Linked DNA regions of Homo sapiens: region 1 is linked to region 2. The links come from fine-mapping of genetic effects on gene expression. A gene starts in region 2. The other region holds a variant in brackets. All regions are shown on one strand. Distances are between the middles of the regions. Region 1 holds the start of MIR4284 (microRNA 4284). Region 2 holds the start of DNAJC30 (DnaJ heat shock protein family (Hsp40) member C30).

The links.
Region 1: its variant is fine-mapped to the expression of DNAJC30 in whole blood (INTERVAL, PIP 0.96).

What each region holds. Positions count from the first base shown.
Region 1 is chr7:73,709,827-73,718,765 of GRCh38, reverse strand. The region is part of intron 1 of STX1A (syntaxin 1A); the gene reads left to right. It overlaps MIR4284 (microRNA 4284), which reads right to left and starts at 7,449; the gene lies at 7,369-7,449. RefSeq lists an enhancer at 2,788-3,319. The variant T/C (reference allele first, on the strand shown) is at 4,669.
Region 2 is chr7:73,678,652-73,687,455 of GRCh38, reverse strand. It overlaps DNAJC30 (DnaJ heat shock protein family (Hsp40) member C30), which reads left to right and starts at 4,003. Exons shown (of 1, transcript NM_032317.3): 1 at 4,003-6,538. The coding sequence starts at 4,033. The coding sequence ends at 4,713. It overlaps BUD23 (BUD23 rRNA methyltransferase and ribosome maturation factor), which reads right to left and starts at 3,859. Exons shown (of 12, transcript NM_017528.5): 1 at 3,783-3,859; 2 at 3,652-3,689; 3 at 725-820; 4 at 556-638; 5 at 361-457. The coding sequence starts at 3,830. RefSeq lists enhancers at 1,452-2,301, 2,302-3,151, 4,082-4,251, 4,492-4,581.

The sequences.
Region 1 (8,939 bases), 31 kb before region 2:
CCTTCTCCCAGCCCAGAGACCCCTGCAGCCTGCGTGGGTCCCCTTCCCCTGGCCTCTGCCCTTAGGGATGAGGAGCCCAGGAGGATGGTGACCGGGAGTGGAGGACAGCGACGGAAATGAAGCCTCTCTGGGTGTGTCGGGGAGGGGGGGTGGATCAAGGCTCAAGACTAGATTGAGTCTCATCTGGTCATCTGGTCCCCTGGCTGGCCACCTGGCTGGCAGCCCTGCCTGCTGATCCCTGGGAGCACCCCCCACCCCGCTCCCTGGGCTAGGAACTAGAACCCTAAGGTCCCCTCCTATGGAAAATGTCAAGTGTCCTTTGGGCATTTGACCCCACGGCTTGTCTTCTCCACCCAGAGGCTCCCTGAGTTGGAGCCTGTCTGCCCCATTATGTCATGGTTGCCTCCTGGGCATCCTGGAGCCGGGACCTGGGCTCCCCTGCCTTCATGTCCCCCACTTGCTCTGGCACCACGGCCTCCACTTTGCCTCCAGACCTGTTATTCCTGGCCGAGCGCCCAGCCCCTGGTGTAAACCCCATGAGGTTTCAAAGGAAGAAGATGGTCCCTCAAGTCGCATATGGGCTCTAAACACTTCCCCCGCGGCCCCTGTGGTTGCCCTCAAGTTTCCTGAGCTCCGTTGAGTCAGAATGAGTGTTTTCCTGGTGACGGATGGCTGTGTGGTGTAATGTGCTGATGTTTAGGCGCCTGGTAGGTTACCTGAGGGTGTGTGTGGGAACCAAGTGGTCAGGGGAACCATGGGCCCCTACATAGGATAATAGCCTCTGGCATGTCAGCCTTCATCCCCCTAGCTGAAGGGGAAACTGAGGCACAAAAGAAACACGGCTTGCCTGCTAGAGGGAGGGGTGGTAGAAAAGGGCTTTGCCTCATCCCTGAAGATAGTCAGACTCAGGCCTGGCTGACACTGGGGGACAGCCAGTGGAGCTGGGGTTGTGAAGCGTTTGAACCCAGATCTTTTTGCTCTGATGTCTGTCTCTGTTACTACCTCCTCGCCCCCTGATTAGATGGTGAAGCCAGGCTTTGCTTTGAATGGTCTGAGGCTTCCGCTCCAGACACCCCCACCCTCCCCACACAAGGCATTCAGAGCCCAGGGAGGCTGTACCCATTGCTGGGTGGCCCTGCCCAGGGAGGGCTTTCTAGCAGACAGGTGGACGGCTGGCAGGCAGGAGCCCACCCGGGGTGGGGTGAGACAGTCAGTCTTGGTGGGGCCACTGTTCCCACAGGCTGCTTTCCCTCTGGACCTAGGGTTCCCATCTGTGAAGTGGGGATGGGAAAGCCTAGAATTCAGTTTCTCGGGACGAGAAGCAGGGCTACAGGTCTCCTGACTCCAGCTCCACATTTGTAGGAGGCCTGAAGCCCCAGGAGTCAGAATTTTCAGCCCAGAATCCCCAGAAAGGAAGAGGCCAGCACTGGCTGAGCTGGACTGGGCTGGACTGGGCTGGACTGGGGCGGGCTGGGCTGGGCTGGGCTGAACAGAGATGGTGCTGGGGACAGCGGCTGTGCACCGCTCCCAGCCCTCCCTCCCTCCCTCTTCCTCCTCCTCCTCCCTCTTCTTTCTCCTTCTCCCCCACCCAACACCACCACATTTGGAAGGAGGCGAAGAGAGCTTATTTATAAAAGTCACACTTGGGGAAGGAGCTGGCGCGTTTCCTCACTCTGCAGGCCCGGCCCAGCCCTCCAGCCTTCTCCAGCCTTCTCCAGCTCCCAACTCTCCCTCTGCAGATGGGGAGTGAAGGGGGTCACTGGGGACTAGCCAGGGGGCCTCAATGCTGTCGCAGTCCCTCAGAGATCAGAAAGGCCACTTGCAGGTTACAGGTAACAAAGAGAGACCGAAGACAGGGCCAGGGTCACACAGCCAGGGAAAGACTTTTAGGTTAGAGCATCCCCAGGAGCCCCACTCAGGCTGTAGCTGCCTCCTCCCCTCAACTCAGAGACTCCCTGATTTTCTTCCTGGGGACTTTGCAGAGCTGACCTTTCTCCCTGGGCCCAGAACATGTATTTGTCTATGTGCCAGGTCATGTGGGACAGACACATGGGACCTGTTGCAGGAGGCTGAAGACGTAGCAAGGAGGGAGAGTTGGAGCAGCACAATCCTGGAAGGCTTCCTGGAAGAAGAGACCCTGGGATAGCACAGGAGCAGGAGCTGGATTTGAATAGGAGGAGAGAAGGTGATCCAAAGGAGGGGACAGCTTAGTGAAGGCAGAGAGATTGGAATGCTCAACCAGGAGAGAATAGCAGGTGGTCCTGACAGCTGGTGTCTGGGGCCCCCTGAAGTGCCTTGAGGTCTAGACTAGGGCCCAACTCACTGGAGCAGCCCAGGCAGGCCTGGATGGGAAGGCCCAGGGCCCTGCTTTGCCCATCAGTTTCCCCTTCTCTTTCGTTGCTGGGAAGAGTCTGGCGGTTGGGTGGCAACACCGGGCAGGTTCATCCTTAATCTCCCTCTGCTCATTTCCTCATCTGCAGAATGGAGCCAGTGTTACCTACTTTGCAGAGTGGCAGGCACGAGAGTGTAAGAACAGGAGCCGGACAGGGCTCGCCCGATCCTTCCTCCCATTACGTTCCAGAGGTTTCCCAGCATGAACGATGCATTTGGGTACATTTTCATCTGGGGTGCAGGTGGAACGGCCTCCCGGGACCATCTAGTTCAACCTCCTATCTTACAGATCAGAAAACAGGTCCAGAAAGGGCCAGGTGTTTATCTGAGGTCATGCAGCCTGTGGGGGCAGAGCCTGGCCCCTTCCACGGCCTGAAGCTGCCTCCCTGAGCCACTCTGGGGCCCTGTGAAGGGGCAGGCTCTGCAGGGCGGGGACCTGGTGTACACACAGCTGGAGGCTGGAGACAGGGTGAGGAGGCTCAGATTGCACAGCCGTCTTTCCTGGAGACCCAGCTTGGCCTCTCGCACACCCCTGACTCAGCTCCGGGCCTCTCTGCACTAGTGATATTGACTTTGATTAGTCATTTAAAAGAAGAAGGGAAAAAAATAGCCCTCGAGGCAGACAACAGCCACTGTGCTCAGCAGTGATGAATCAACCTTGCCAGCCTGGTGGCTTCCCCTGGGACACGCCTGGAGGCTGCCTGGCCTCTGCGCCTCTTGGAGGAGTCAGACTATTACATCCAGGAAGGTGTCCTGGAATCCTGGAGTCTCTGCTAGGAGAGACCACCAGGGCTGCCCCACCTCTGCCAGGGGAAGCTCAGGGCATCCAGCTCCCCGTGGTTCCAGCAGGGTCTGTTCTTCCTAGCAGTCTCCATGCTAGGGAGGTAAGGAGCACTCCCTCCCAGCCTTCCTGGTTGGAGGTGGTGTTTTTTGTTGGTTTTTTTTTTGTTTTTTTAGACGGAGTCTCGCACTGTCTCCAGGCTGGAGTGCAATGGTGCCATCTCAGCTCACTGCAGCCTCCACCTCCTGGGTTCAAGTGATTCTCCTTCCTCAGCCTCCTGAGTAGCTGAGACTACAGGTGTGCATCACCATGCCCGGCTAATTTTTGTATTTTTAGTAGCAACGGGGTTTCACCATGTTGGGCAGGATGGCCTCGATCTCTTGACCTCGTGATCTGCCCGCCTCGGCCTCCCAAAGTGCTGGGATTACAGGTGTAAGCCACCACACCCAGCCAATTTTTTTTTTTTTTTTAGACGGAGTCTCATTCTGTCATCCAGGCTGGAGTGCAGTGGCATAATCTTGGCTCACTGCAACCTCCACCTCCCAGGTTCAAGTGATTCTCCTGCCTCATCCTACCGAGTAGCTGGGATTACAGGCATGCACCATCACACCCGGCTAATTTTTGTATTTTTAGTAGAGATGGGGTTTTGCCATGTTGACCAGGCTGTTCTTGAACTGCTAACCTCAGGTGATCCACCCACCTTGGCCTCCCGAAGTGCTGGGATTAAGGCATGAGCCACTGCACCCGGCTACCCCTATAAATTCTGATTCAGTCTCTTTGGGGTGGATCCCTGGAAGCCGTTTTTGTTTTTTTTTTTTAACCCCCCCAAAGGATTCTGGTGCTCGCCCAGCTTTGAGAACTGCTGAATGCAGAACAAAAAAACACCAGGATGTTAGCTGGGCTTGGGGGCTCACACCTGCAGTACCAACTACTTGGGAGGCTGAGGCGGGAAGACTGCTTGAGCTCAGGAGTTTGAGACCAGCCTGAGCAACATAGTGAGACCACCATCTCTACACAAATTTAAAATTAGCCAGGTGTGGTGGCAGGCACCTGTAGTCCCAGCTACTCTGGAGGCTGAGGCTGGAGGATTGCTTGAGCCTGGGAGATCAAGGCTGCAGTGAGCTATGATCTTGCCACTGCACTCCAGTCTGGACAACAAAGCGAGATTCTGTTTCAAAAAAAAAAGAGCTGGGCGCGGTGGCTTACGCCTGTAATCCTAGCACTTTGGGAGACCGAGGCGGGTGGATCACCTGAGGTCAGGAATTCAAGACCAGCCTGGCCAACATGGTGAAACCCCGTCTCTACTAAAAATACAAAAACTAGCCGGGTGTGGTGCGGGTGCCTGTAATCCCAGCTACTCGGGAGGCTGAGGCAGGAGAATCGCTTGAACCTGGGAGGCGGAGGTTGTGGTGAGCCGAGATTGCGCCACTGCGCTCCAGCCTGGGCAACAGAGCGAGACTCTGCCTCAAAAAAAAAAAAAAAAGTGCCAGGACAAA[T/C]TGGATGTTGGTTGGATGGGAGAAGAGGAGGAAGATGGCAGATGTCCTAGGTTTCTGGCTTGGGGTTCTGCGCTAGGCAGTTCAGAGGATGGGGCTCTGGCAAAACAGGTGGAGCCTGGTTTTGGCCAGGAGGCAGGCAAGGTGCCCGTATGATATCTGGGCACATCCGTCCGTAAGACACTTGGGCCTTTGAGTTTGTGCCCCACAGTTCCAGCTGCCACCTGCACAGCGAAGGGTTCCAAGTCCCCAACTCCAATCCAGCCCCCTCTCCAGAGCTGTGAATGCCACTCAGAAAGCATTGGTAGATCCCCAAGGGAGCTGGGCCCTAATTATTCCACAGAAATCTGTGTGTCCACTTTTGTTTTTTTGAGACAGGATCTTGCTCTGTCACCTAAGCTGGAGTGCAATGGCACGATCATAGCTCACTGCAGCCTCGACCTCCAGGGCTCAAGCAATCCTCCCACCTCAGCCTCCTGAGTAGCTGCAATTACAGATGCATGGCACCACGCCCAGCTAATTTTTGTAGCTTTTGATAGAGATGGGGTCTTGCTATGTTGCCCTGGCTGGTCTCAAACTCCTGGACTCAAGTAATCCTCCCACCTTGGCCTCCCAAAGTGCTGAGATTACCGGCGTGAGCCATCATGCTTGGCCACTTTATGTATACAGTGCCCGCCCTGGCCAGCCCAAGACACCAGGAAGACAGCATGCCAGGGTAGCCACATCACCTAGTTACATTTTGGTCAAGAGTGTGTCTGGGCTGGGAAACAGAGGAGGTGAGGGTGGCAGTGGGGCTCTGCCATCCCGCGTCCTTATCAGTTTATTCCGTGTCCAATGAGAACTGATTCCTTATCTGAGTGAATCTGGAGGACATCTCTAGAATGCTGCCACCAGGCTCTAGCTTGGATGTGGATGAGGGTGCAGGGGCGACAGAGCCAGGAGCCATCAGAATCCCACAAACTGAAATAAGCATCAGAACAAATGAAGAAATGAAACAGGAAGAAGGTCCTTCACTCGAACCCCAAATCCACTCCACAGACAGTGGTTGGGAAGGGCTTGGGGCTTTTCTTGACAGGAAATGCTACATGATCACTTATCTGATTCCTGGCTGTATTACTAGAGGTAGATCATATAGAAAGAGGGAGGGGATGGGCCAGATCTTTGGCATTGCCCAGACCACAGTCAGCAGCAGATTCAGTTTGTGTGCTGTATGACAGGAGACAGAGGCACAGTGGAACAACTCTTGGGCAGGGGCTGTAATTTGGGGTCCCTGGGAAGGATCTGAAAGGGAAGGAATACTTAAAAAGAAAAATCTAGGGAGGATGTGGATGCCGCCTTCAAATCTATAGCAGGGGTACCCCAGGGAGAGGGCACCCACAGGTTCTTTATGGCCTGGAACCAAACCACAGGGAAGAGAAGGACTCTAACAGTTGGGGCTGCCCGAGATGGGCAGAGCTGTCTGGGGAAGCTAGTGAGCTCACTGTCACAGGAGGTTTGCAAGCTGAGGCTGGCAGCTGAAGCCAGGGGGACTTTTCAGGTCCCTTAGGGCCTGAGAGTTTTCAGCCATGGCTCCAATAGGAATGTGAATGGCGTGTGGAAGAACAAGGTGCGAGATACTGATTTGGGGGGGCAGGGAGGCTTCTGGAAGGAGGTGGCATCGAGGAAGAAGGGAATGTCACCTTCATGGAATCAGCATCCCGGGCAAAGGGATGTGCCTGGGGGAAGTTGGGGGCAGAGGGTGGATTGTAGGGCCAGGAACCAGTTGTAGGTGTGGGGGAGTGGGGTCTGATCCCAGGGGAGGGCAGCAGGATAAAGAGCAGAGCTGGGGGTGAAAATTCCCAAGAACGAAGAAGTAGAAGGACGTGGGGAGGAAAGGCCCACTTCGCCCATCCCCTCTAGGTTTTGCTTGGAGCTGTGGCTGGTTTGACCATGCCTCAGAGGTCAGGCCCTCAGCCCCCCGACTGGCTTTGGGGCCAATCTCAATGCCACCTCCAGGGTAGACTTGACCTGCGTGCCCCCATCTACCCTGGCCCTGATCTCCCTTTCCCCAGCCCTACCCTCATAGACGGAGGGTCCAGAGGAGGATGCGGGCATCTCTCCTCCCAGCCCTTCTGTTAGAGAAGCTTCCTGGTCCAGCCTTCAGCCTTCTGGGAAGGTAGCAGGTCAGAGCTGGCCGGATGCCTGGAGAAGATCTGCCCTCATTACACAGATGGGCAAGCTGAGGTCAAGAGAGGCACCAGACAGGTGCCAGGGGTCTCTGAGGGCAGGACAGGGGTTCGGTGGGGCTGGCAGTGACGCTCGTCTCTGGCCACGGAAAAGGAGCTGGATAATTCTCCATCCACCCTTTGTCATCTACCCTGATCCTCTGAGCACCAGGGCAGAGAGGGCAGGACACTGAATGGCAGGAGCTCCTGGGGCCACTTCCCAACCTGGCAGCCTGCCCAGGAGGAGGAACTGGGCTCCTCCTGGCAGTGCTCTGCCTCAGTTTCCCTAGGGAGGGCTCCTCTGACTCAACTCCTAGGCCTGTCACGGTCTAAAAGCGTGAAAACGGCTCCTGGATTTTCTGTGTCTGTAGGGAGCTTGGTGGGGGAGGGGGTACCACCTGGTGACAGCCCCAGGCACTCGGTGGGGAGTGGGAACGAGGATTTATTTTAGCTGCTGGGGAGGTGGTACGATATCTTAAAGAGAGGAGGCCCCTCTGAGCCGCCTCTATCAAAGCTCCTAACTACCCCCTCTCCCCATGAGTCCCCACTTTGATGGGGTGATGTGAGCCCCTCACAGAACATGCTCAGGCCGGGCATGGTGGCGGCTCACACCTATACTCCCAGCACTTTGGGAAGCCAAGGTGGGAAGATCACTTGAGCCCAAGAGTTTGAGACCAGACTGGGCAACATAGTTTGACCCTGTCGCTACAAAAAAAAAAAAAAAATCAAAAAGTAGCTGGGTGTGGTGGCATGCATCTGATGCATCTGTAGTCCCAGCTGCTTGGGAGGCTGAAGTGAAAGGATGGCTTGAGCCCGGGAGGTTGAGGCTACAGGGAGTTATGATTGTGCCACTGCACTCCAGCCTGGGTGACAGAGCGAGACCCTGTCTCAATCAATCAATCAGTCCATCCATCAATCAAACAAACATACCTGCCCTGCTTCCCCACTTTTTCTCAGCCCTCCCTCCATGCAGCCAGGTGTCACTGTCCCCATTTCACAGAAGAGTAAATAGAGCCAGAGGGGTTAAGGCCCAGCCTGATGAGTCCCATCAGTTCTCTCAGCCCCTCAACCTCCACCTGCCTCCGTCCTGACGCGAGAGCACCGAGGTGGGGTCAGTGCTGAGCTAGTCAGTGGCCACTCCCGTGAGGCACTCAGAAATGAGGTGGGAACAAGATCAGATGTGGTGGTTCACGCCTGTAATCCCAGTACTTTGGGAGGCCGAGGCGGGTGGATCACCTGAGGTCAGGAGTTCGAGACCGGCCTGGCCAACATAGTGAAACCTGTCTCTACTAAAAATACAAAAATTAGCTGGGCATGGTGGCATGCACCTGTAATCCCAGCTACTCGGGAGGCTGAGGCAGGAGAATTGCTTGAACCCAGGAGGTGGAGGTTGCAGTGAGCCAAGATCACACCACTGCACTCCAGCCTAGGTGACAGTGCGAGACTCTCTCAAAAAATAAAAAAATAAAAATAAAAGAGGTGGGAACAAGCCCTGAGCCCCAGGCTGAGAGACCTCAGTCCCTGCCCCAGGGTGGCCACCCCGGATATCCTTGCCTTGGCTGCAGAGAGAGACCTGGCCTTGCCAGCAGCGTGGGCTGACCCTGGCCAACTGGCGGTATGAGGCAGACAGTAATAATTGTGCGCAGCATGCTGGGAAGTCAGAAGTATGATTACCCCTGCCCCACGATGGGGGTGGCTTTTGTACAGCTGGTCCTGGGACAGTGGAGTGGGGCTTGTAACTGTGGCTGAGGCCTAAGGCAGGACCCAAGCCAAGTGGCAACATGACTGTCCCCTTGTGCCTGCTGGGCCCAGGTCTGGGGACTGGAAGGAGGCAGACCGAGGTCCAATGGCAAGACCGACAGGGAGGCCAAGTGCAGTGGCTCACACCTACAATCCCAGTGCTTTGGAAGGCTGAGGCAGGAGGATCGCTTGAGGCCAGGAGTTCAAGACCAGCCTGGGTAACACAGTGAGACCCCCGTCTCTACAAAAATAAAAATTAAATTTAAAAACTGTTTTAAAAAAAGACTCACAGGAGATTCCTAAGAGATCTGATCCGTGCCACCTCGGGAC
Region 2 (8,804 bases):
AAAATACAAAAATTAGTTGGGTGTGGTGGCGTGCTCCTGTAATCTCAGCTACTTGGGAGGCTGAGGCAGGAGAATCGCTTGAGCCTGGGAGGCGAAGGCTGCAGTGAGCCAAGATCACACCACTGCACTCCAGCCTGGTGACAGAGCAAGACTCCATCTCAAAAAAACAAAAAATTAGCTAGGTACGGTGGTGTGGGCCTGTAGTCCCAGCTACTCAGGAGACTGAGGTGGGCAGATCACCTGAACCCAGGAGGTGGAGGCTGCAGTGTGAGCCATAATCACAGACACTGCACTAGAGCCTAAGTGATAGAGTGAGACCCTGTCTCTAAATAAATAAAAGCAGGAATTAAAGACCCTCACCTGATGCAACCATCAAATGTGCCTGGCTTGAATGGGATGCCCTGGCCCATATCCCCCAGCAGCAGGTCTCCCTCTATCTCTCGGTCCACAGCCTCATCTACATTAGAGAAAAGGCAGTCAGAGAAAGAGAAATACCTGTGGCTTCTCCACACCCATCAGGGTAATCCACCCTGGTGCCAGACAGGACATACTTACCCAGCATGGCAGGGCTGATATCCAGGCCCACCCAATAGTGCCCTTCATCTGACAGATAACTTCCACTCAGCCCAGTGCCACAGCTGGAAGACATGACCAGACACTCAGGGTCAGTTTACAAAGACACTTCACCACCTTAGACAATCTGAACCAGGCCCCAGAATCTCACCCAATATCCAGCAGGTAACAGGGCTTATTCTCTGGCAGATAAAGAAGCTCCAATGCTCGCCCAGCCATCCTGGTCTGGATATCAATCATCCGTGAGCTGGTAAGGCAGAAACACAAGTGGACATGGTAAAGGAGTTCTGGGTGAATACTTCCCCCAGACCAAAAAACAAAAAACAAAAAAAAGCCAAGTTAAAAACAAACAAAAAACGGATCAATCATCCCGAGGTACTCTTTTCTGACCCCTTCTAAGTTGGGATCAACAAATTCAACCATTCGAAAGTGACCCCAAAAATTCCATGTAATTCAGGACCATGTTATTTTGTGGTAACAACTTATCATTGCACCAGCTGCCAAGCAGATGTGTAAAAGCAAATCACTTAGCTAGTAATAAACAACCACTGGGATCTGCAACTCTATTAGGCTGGGCTGCTCTAGCACTTGTTGAAAACATTTTCTCCAAAAATTATTCTCCATAGTTTCTCTCATCTAGAAGGATCAACAATGCACAAAAACCTACAGCAGCACTGTCTGTGAGAAACAGAATGTGAGCCACGCATGGCTTCCCAATAGCCAGTCAAGAAGAAACTTAAAGAAACAGGTAAAAGAAACTGGAGTCATATTTTTTTTTTTTTTTGAGACGGAGTCTTGCTCTGTTGTCGCCCAGGCTGGAGTGCAGTGGCGCGATCTCGGCTCACTGCAAGCTCCGCCTCCCGGGTTAATGCCATTCTCCTGCCTCAGCTTCCCCAGCAGCTGGGACTACAGGCGCCCGCCGCCACGCCCGGCTAATTTTTTTTTTTGCATTTTCAGTAGAGACGGGGTTTCACCATGTTAGCCAGGATTTCTCTATCTCCTGACCTTGTGATCCGCCAGCCTCGGCCTCCCAAAGTGCTGGGATTACAGGCGTGAGCCACCGCGCCCGGCCTCTGGAGTCATATTTTTAACCCCATATATTTAATAACGTATTTCCATTAACTCAATATGTTCAAAATATCACTTCAACATATAATCGACATAAAAAGTCATCAGCAAGGACCGGGCCTGGTGGCTCACGCCTATAATCCCAGTACTTTGGGAGGCCAAGGCGGGTGGATCCCGTGAGCAACTTACCAGATCCCTGGGCAACATAGCAAAACTCCCTCTCCACAAAAAAATTACACAAACTAGTCGGGCGCGAGGAGGCGCGCCTGTAGTTCCAACTACCCGGGAGGCGAGGTTGCAGCCACTGCAGCACTTCGGCCTGGGCGATAGAATGAGAGCCTGTCTCACACGCACAAAAAATTATCAAGCTATTTCAGCCGGTGTGGTGGCGAGTGCCTCTAGTTCCGGCTGCTGGGGAGGATGGCTTGAGGCTGCAGTCGGCAGGGATCATGCCATGGCACTCCAGCCTGGGCAATAGAGAGACCCTGTCCCTAAAAAAAAGAAACAGTATCCAATAGCTATTTATTTATTTATTGAGTCAGGGTCTCACTCTGTCGCCAAGGCTGGAGTGCAGTGGTGCGATCGCAGCTCACTGCAACCTCTGCCTCTCAGGTTCAAGTGATTCTCCTGCCTCAGCCTCCCGTAGGCCCGGCTAATATCTGTATTTTCAGTAGAGACGGGATTTCACCATGCTGGCCAGGTTGGTCTCGGAATTCCTGACCTCAGGTGATCCGTCCACCTCCGCCTCCCACAGGGCTGGGATTACTGGTATGAGCCATAGCGCCCGGCCAGTAACCATTTACTGAAATAGGGCTAGTCTCTCAGTGAGAGAGCACGGAAAAACCACAAAGTATCTTTTTTTTTTTTTTTTTTTTTTTTTTTTTTTTTTTTGAAACAAAGTCTTGCTCTGTCGCCCAGGCTGGAGTGCAGTGCCGTGATGTCGGCTCACTGCAACCTCCCCCTCCCGGGTTCAAGCTATTCTCCTGCCTCAGCCTCCCGAGTAGCTGGGGTTACAGAAACCCGCCATCGCGCCCGGCTAATTTTTTCCATTTTTAGTAGAGCTGGAGTTTCGCCATGTTGGCCAGGCTGGTCTCGAACTCCTGACCTCAGGTGATCCGTCTGCCTCAGCCTCCCAAAGTGTTGCGATTACAGGCGTGAGACACCGCGCCAGCTTCCCCCCGCCCCCATCCCCCCCCCTTTTTTTTTTTTTTAACGACTCGAGGTGCGCTGGCTCACGCCTGCAATCCCAACAGTTCGGGAGACGAAGGCGGGAGGATCGCTTGAGCCCTGGGCTTGGGCCACCTTGGGCAACACAGCGAGACCCCATCGCAACAAAAATTTACAAAAAAAAGCCAGGCGTAGTGGCGCGCGCCTGTGGTCCCAACTACTGGAGAGGCAGAGGGGAGCCACCACACCCGGCTAATTTTTTTATTACTTGCGGAGACGGGGGCTCGCTACGTTGCCCAGGCTGGTCTCGAACCCCTGAGCTCAAGCGATCCTCCCGCCTCAGCCTCCCAAAGTGCTGCGATTGCTGAGATTACACGCGTGAGCCACTCCCACCTGGCTACAACTCAGTAGTTATACAAACTACCCTCTATGAAATTCAGACAATAATACACCAACTGCTGTCTTGGAGATTTATTGGCAACAAGGCGCCACGATAAGCATCCTACGGCCATTACTTCCTTCCCCCCACCAGGACTGACCCCTCGCCCGTACCCACCGCCCAGCGCCTCTTTTACCACATGTTTAGGACAAATTGTCACATTCGACTTTGAAAACCACCCACGGAAAGCAAGCGCGATCACCCCTACCTCAACGCTGAGGTACCGAGGCCCAGAGAGGTCGGCAACTTAAAGTTGATTTACCAGAGACAGAAATCGGCACCCACCCGGGTCCTTCCCTTCCCGCACCCCCAAATTCTACGGCCTTTCCGGGCAACGCCAGCAACAGGGGCAACTTGCCGCTTCCCGACCCCCGGACGCCCCGCAGTATTCAGGCTCCCCTCACTTGCGAACGTATTTCCGGGCTTCTGTCTCGTCATAAAACTGCGAAAAAGAGAAAATGGCATGTAGAGGAATAATTCAGACGCGGTGGCCGCAGAAGTGGGGAGAGGGGTGTCCGCGGGCCCCGGGACTTACCAGCTCTGGGGGTCCGCCATGCTCCGGACGCCGGCCGCGGGACGCCATTCTCACGCCTCAGCAGCACACCTGCGACTGGCGCCTGCCGGCACCCGGTTTTTATGTCATCAGCCCGGCGACCGCTTAGTAATACGCATGTTCCACCCCCACGACCGCCCCGCCCCCCCCTTTACGTGACTGGCCACAGGGCGACCAACCGACTCCTCTCATTGGCCGGTTTCTCTTGCACCGCCTGCCGAATCAATTCAACATGGCAGCCATGCGCTGGCGATGGTGGCAGCGGCTGTTACCTTGGAGGTTGCTGCAGGCCCGTGGCTTTCCACAAAATTCTGCACCCAGCCTGGGCCTAGGAGCGAGGACTTATTCCCAGGGCGACTGCTCGTATTCGCGCACGGCGCTGTATGATCTGCTCGGCGTCCCCTCCACAGCCACGCAGGCCCAAATCAAGGCGGCTTACTACCGTCAGTGCTTTCTCTACCACCCGGACCGCAACTCCGGGAGCGCGGAGGCCGCCGAGCGCTTCACGCGCATCTCCCAGGCCTACGTGGTGCTGGGCAGTGCCACCCTCCGTCGCAAGTATGATCGCGGCCTACTCAGCGACGAGGACCTGCGCGGACCTGGCGTCCGGCCCTCCAGGACGCCCGCACCCGACCCCGGCTCGCCGCGTACCCCGCCGCCCACCTCTCGGACCCACGACGGTTCTCGGGCCTCCCCCGGCGCCAACCGCACGATGTTCAACTTTGACGCCTTCTACCAGGCCCACTACGGGGAACAACTGGAGCGGGAACGGCGCCTGAGGGCCCGGCGGGAGGCCCTTCGCAAACGGCAGGAGTATCGGTCCATGAAAGGCCTCCGCTGGGAGGATACCCGAGACACGGCTGCCATTTTCCTCATCTTTTCAATCTTCATCATCATCGGCTTTTATATTTAATCGGAGAGAGAAGGGAAGGGGAGTGTCCCCAGCCAACCCCCCAGAAACGGCCTTTTTTCCTGCCTCTGAACCCTTGGCCATTGATAGTCTACCTTTGCTGGGATCCGAAGGAACTGTACTCCCCCTGCCCTCCCCGACCCGCCCAGCTTAGCCGATGACCTGCACATCGCTCCACTGTGGTCCAGAAAAGGAGGCCTTTCGATGTCTGAGAAAGAGGCCCCACGCTGTAGAGTCCCGAAAGCCCAGGAGTGAAGGGGGTTCCTGGAGTCTCTAGGGTGCTTCTTCCAGAGTCTGTCTTCTTGCTTCCAGATGTGGTCAACTTCTGGAACACTCGCTGTAGCTTTATTGTTTAGCCCCAAGCAAGATTTATCTCCTCCTGCCCCGCATGTGTATGGTGGGCCTCTGTAACCTTGAAATGTGCAATGTGACCAATTGTTGACTACCAAAAGAAAAGGTCTGGGGTTGTACGAAACTTGTCTTTCTGTGACTTCCCCAAGCCGCAGGTGAGACCTGGTCCAGGGTAAGAATGGGATCGGTGGAGAGCCTGTCGTTCCTCCCGCTAAGGTCAGCCCCCTGGGGCACTCCTCCTTATGTTGATAGCATGTAGGAGTGAGAAAAAGTCATTGAGCATAAGGAATGAGTGTTCCTGTGCCCATATTTAATGTGTGACCTTGGAGAAGTTACTCTGTAGGCATGACAGCAGAGGAGAAAATCATTTGGCATCTTGAGGTCTGTCATGCTTTATTATCCATAGTTTTTGGGGGGTTTTTTGTTTTGTTTTGTTTTTGAGATGGAGTCTTGCGCTCTGTTGCCCAGGCTGGAGTGCAGTGGTGCGATCTTAGCTCACTGCAACCTCCACCTCCCGGGTTCAAGCGATTCTCCTGCCTCAGCCTCCTGTGTAACTGGGATTACAGGCTCCCACCACACCTGGCTAGTGTTTTGTATTTTTAGTAGATACGGGGTTTCACCATGCTGGCCAGACTGAGGTCTCGAACTGCCGACCTCAGGCTGTCTGCCCGTCCAGCCTCCCAAAGTGCTGGGATTGCAGGCATGAGCCACTGCTCCCGGCCCTATTATCCATAGTTCTAATCCACAGGGATTACAGCATAATGCTAGCAGGGCCAGGTTCATCCTTGAGACAGTGTGGCTGGCTGTCACCTGGTCCTCCCTTTACCAGCCAGCCCCATTGCACACTGTGCAGCCCATCCCCTCCCAGAAATAGAGTGACAAACTCTGCACTTAAGTCCCCTGTTTCTGTTTAACTTGCAGTGCTTATCACAGGCCCTTCCTTAATTTTTTAAACAAGGCTGCTTGAGGCTGGGGTAAATTTTGGGGCTTTGGGAGTACACAGGACTACTGAGGGACGGGGAGTTGGTGGCTTGGTGTTCATGGTGGAGACTTGGTTCTTTACGCAGAGCAGGCTAAAGGCGTGTTTTTTCTGCTCTGTTTCTAATTCATGTTAAGTAGTTGGTCATCACTTTGGTCAGAGCTGCTGCTGAAGCTCTCTTAACTGTGAGTCACTGGACGTTGGCAGGGAGTTGGCTGTGAGATTGTAGGTGCTCAAGTGTTTCTGTTCGGGACTGAGTGTGAATCTGTAAAAGGGGAAAATCCTCGCAAGAGGTCTACGAGAAGGATGAGGGCCCAAGTCTAGGGTCTAAACAAAGCCAGGAGTGGTTTGGTATATTACTGAGTGCAATCATTGCGTGCCATTCCTGCACTCAATGTATTGTGTAAAATCCTTAGGTAAAATGGGATAAACCCACAGCTGGTCCTACTTGGCCTCTTGAAAACCATTCCATCATTGTGCCAATCTAGCCTGAAAAGGAAAAAAAAAAAGGGAAACCATTGATTGTCTCTTGCCTCGGAGGTTGGGGGTATGCCCCTACTCCAGGCTTTGCAGTGATCATATGATGCAGTAATGAAGATCTGGGGCCTGGCACAACACTTTGGGATCCACCCAAGGCGGGTGGATCACTTGACCTCAGGAGTTGGAGACCAGCCTGGGCAACACGGCAAAACCCCATCTCTACAAAAATCACAAAAATTAGCCGGGTGTGGCAAGTGCCTGTAGTCCCAGCTACTCAGGAGGCTAAGGTGGGAGAATCGCTTGAGCCTGAGAGGTCGTGGTTGCAGTGAGCTGCGATCCTGCCACTGCATTCCAGCCTGGGCTACAAAGCTAGACCCTATCTCAAAAAAAAAAAAAAAGAAAAAGAAAAAAAAGATTTGAGCCCAATCTGGTTCAGACCTGTTTGGCTCAGTGAGCCTGGACTTGGGGGAAGGGGATATGTACTTTTTAAAAGAACATTTATTGTTACTATGTTTCATATTTAGAAAACAGGACAGAGACTTTTTTCTGGAAAAACAAAACTGCAGCAAGTGGAGTTTCTTTTTTCTGGAAAAACAAACTGCACGAAGTGGAGTTTAGCAAAATGTTCTGAAACTAGTGCTTCTCAACCAGTAAAGCAGGCACGACAGAAACAGTGGGGCAAGGGCTTTTTGTTCTAGTGAAACAGGTGGCCTCCTTTCGATGTGGGTTTGTAAAGCACTAGTGGTCTAATAGCATGGGCTCCTTGAGATAGACCTCTGAAGTTTGTTTTCTCAGTCAAGATCCCAGCCAGGAACGTTCCCTGTGAGCCCCCGAATCTGGGGTACATAGAAAATTCCAGAAGGTTCAGACTGGGGGTGGGTCCAGACTAAGGTAAACTTCTGGGACATTCCATGAAACTCTAAGCAAAGTATTCTATAAGGTTTACTAACCATCATCCAATCCTAAGCCTCTCCCCTGACTCAGCACAAGGCCTACTCCGTAATGTCATCCCTTTATGCCTCAGGGTTTTGTAGGCCAGAGCTAATGCCTGAGGGACCCCACTCCCTGCCTGCCCTGAAACTGAGCCTGTGCTCTTCATGGAAAGGAAAATGTGTGGGAGGCTTTTTGAAGGACCCCCAAAAGGTTCCCATGGTCACATTTTCCCCCCACCCACTCAGATTGGCTTGAGTCTTTTCTTTCTCTGCTGCTACCTGGCAAGTGGAGGCTGAACTCGGCCATGACCTTAGCCCCTGCCTTCTAGGGGCTATTCCATAATTCCTGGTTGTGGAGGATGGCTCAGACATGCCCAGCCTTAATCCTTTTTCTTTTTCACAAACTGAAACAAAACTCCCTAGAAGTTTGGACCTAGGATGGGAGAATAGGGTAAAGGGGCCCAGCCTGGCCCAGGCTGTGCTCAGTGGGGTGGGGAGGGGGTTACTGGTATAGCACGAGGCCGAGTGAGCCACAGGCGTGGTTCCTAAATGGGGAGACAGAGGCCACAAGACAGGAACCAAAGGCGCACAGGTCTAGGTAATTGTGGTGGTGTCTTTGGGCTTGAATGGGACTTTATTTCTCCTGAGCCAAACTGCTTTTTCCCTTCTGTTGCCCTTTATTTATTGCTGGGTGAGATGACCCTTTACAGATCCCAGTGTTGAGGAAGTAGGCTTTCTCCCTCTTCCTTCTGAGGTTCCGGCATTTCATTCATTGAGTGCACCTCTGTATGAGCCAAATTGATTAGGAATAGCTTACCTTAGGCCACAGAGCTGTCCTACTGGGTCACGATTGACTTGGAGTGGCCACCAACACACCCTTTTTTGGAAATGGAAGAGGTCTGTGTTTCAAACTGTTGGGCTTCCTGGAAGGTCGCCAGACCCTGTGCAAACAGGCTGAGAGAGGGACGGCTGATAAGTGGTGGTGCTACCTCAGTCCACACTCTGGAATTCAGTGCACTAGAAAAGCGGGCCCTGTCCTGGCCTTTGCCTCCTCTCAGTTCCTCAGCGCCATGATGAAGTCACATGCTGCCACCTGCCCATGGGGAAGATCATGAGGGAAAGCCCAGCACAATGGCACACACCTGTGGTCCCAGTTACTTGGGAGGCTGAGGCAGGAGGATCGCTTGAGCCCAGGAGTCCAAGACTAGTGTACAAAGATCTCGCCTATGAATAGCTACTGCACTCCAGCTGGGCAACACGCAAGACCTCATCTCTAAAAAGAAAAACAGGCCGGGTACGGTGGCTCACCTCTGTAATCCCAGCACTTTGGGAGGCCAAGGCGGGCGGATCAC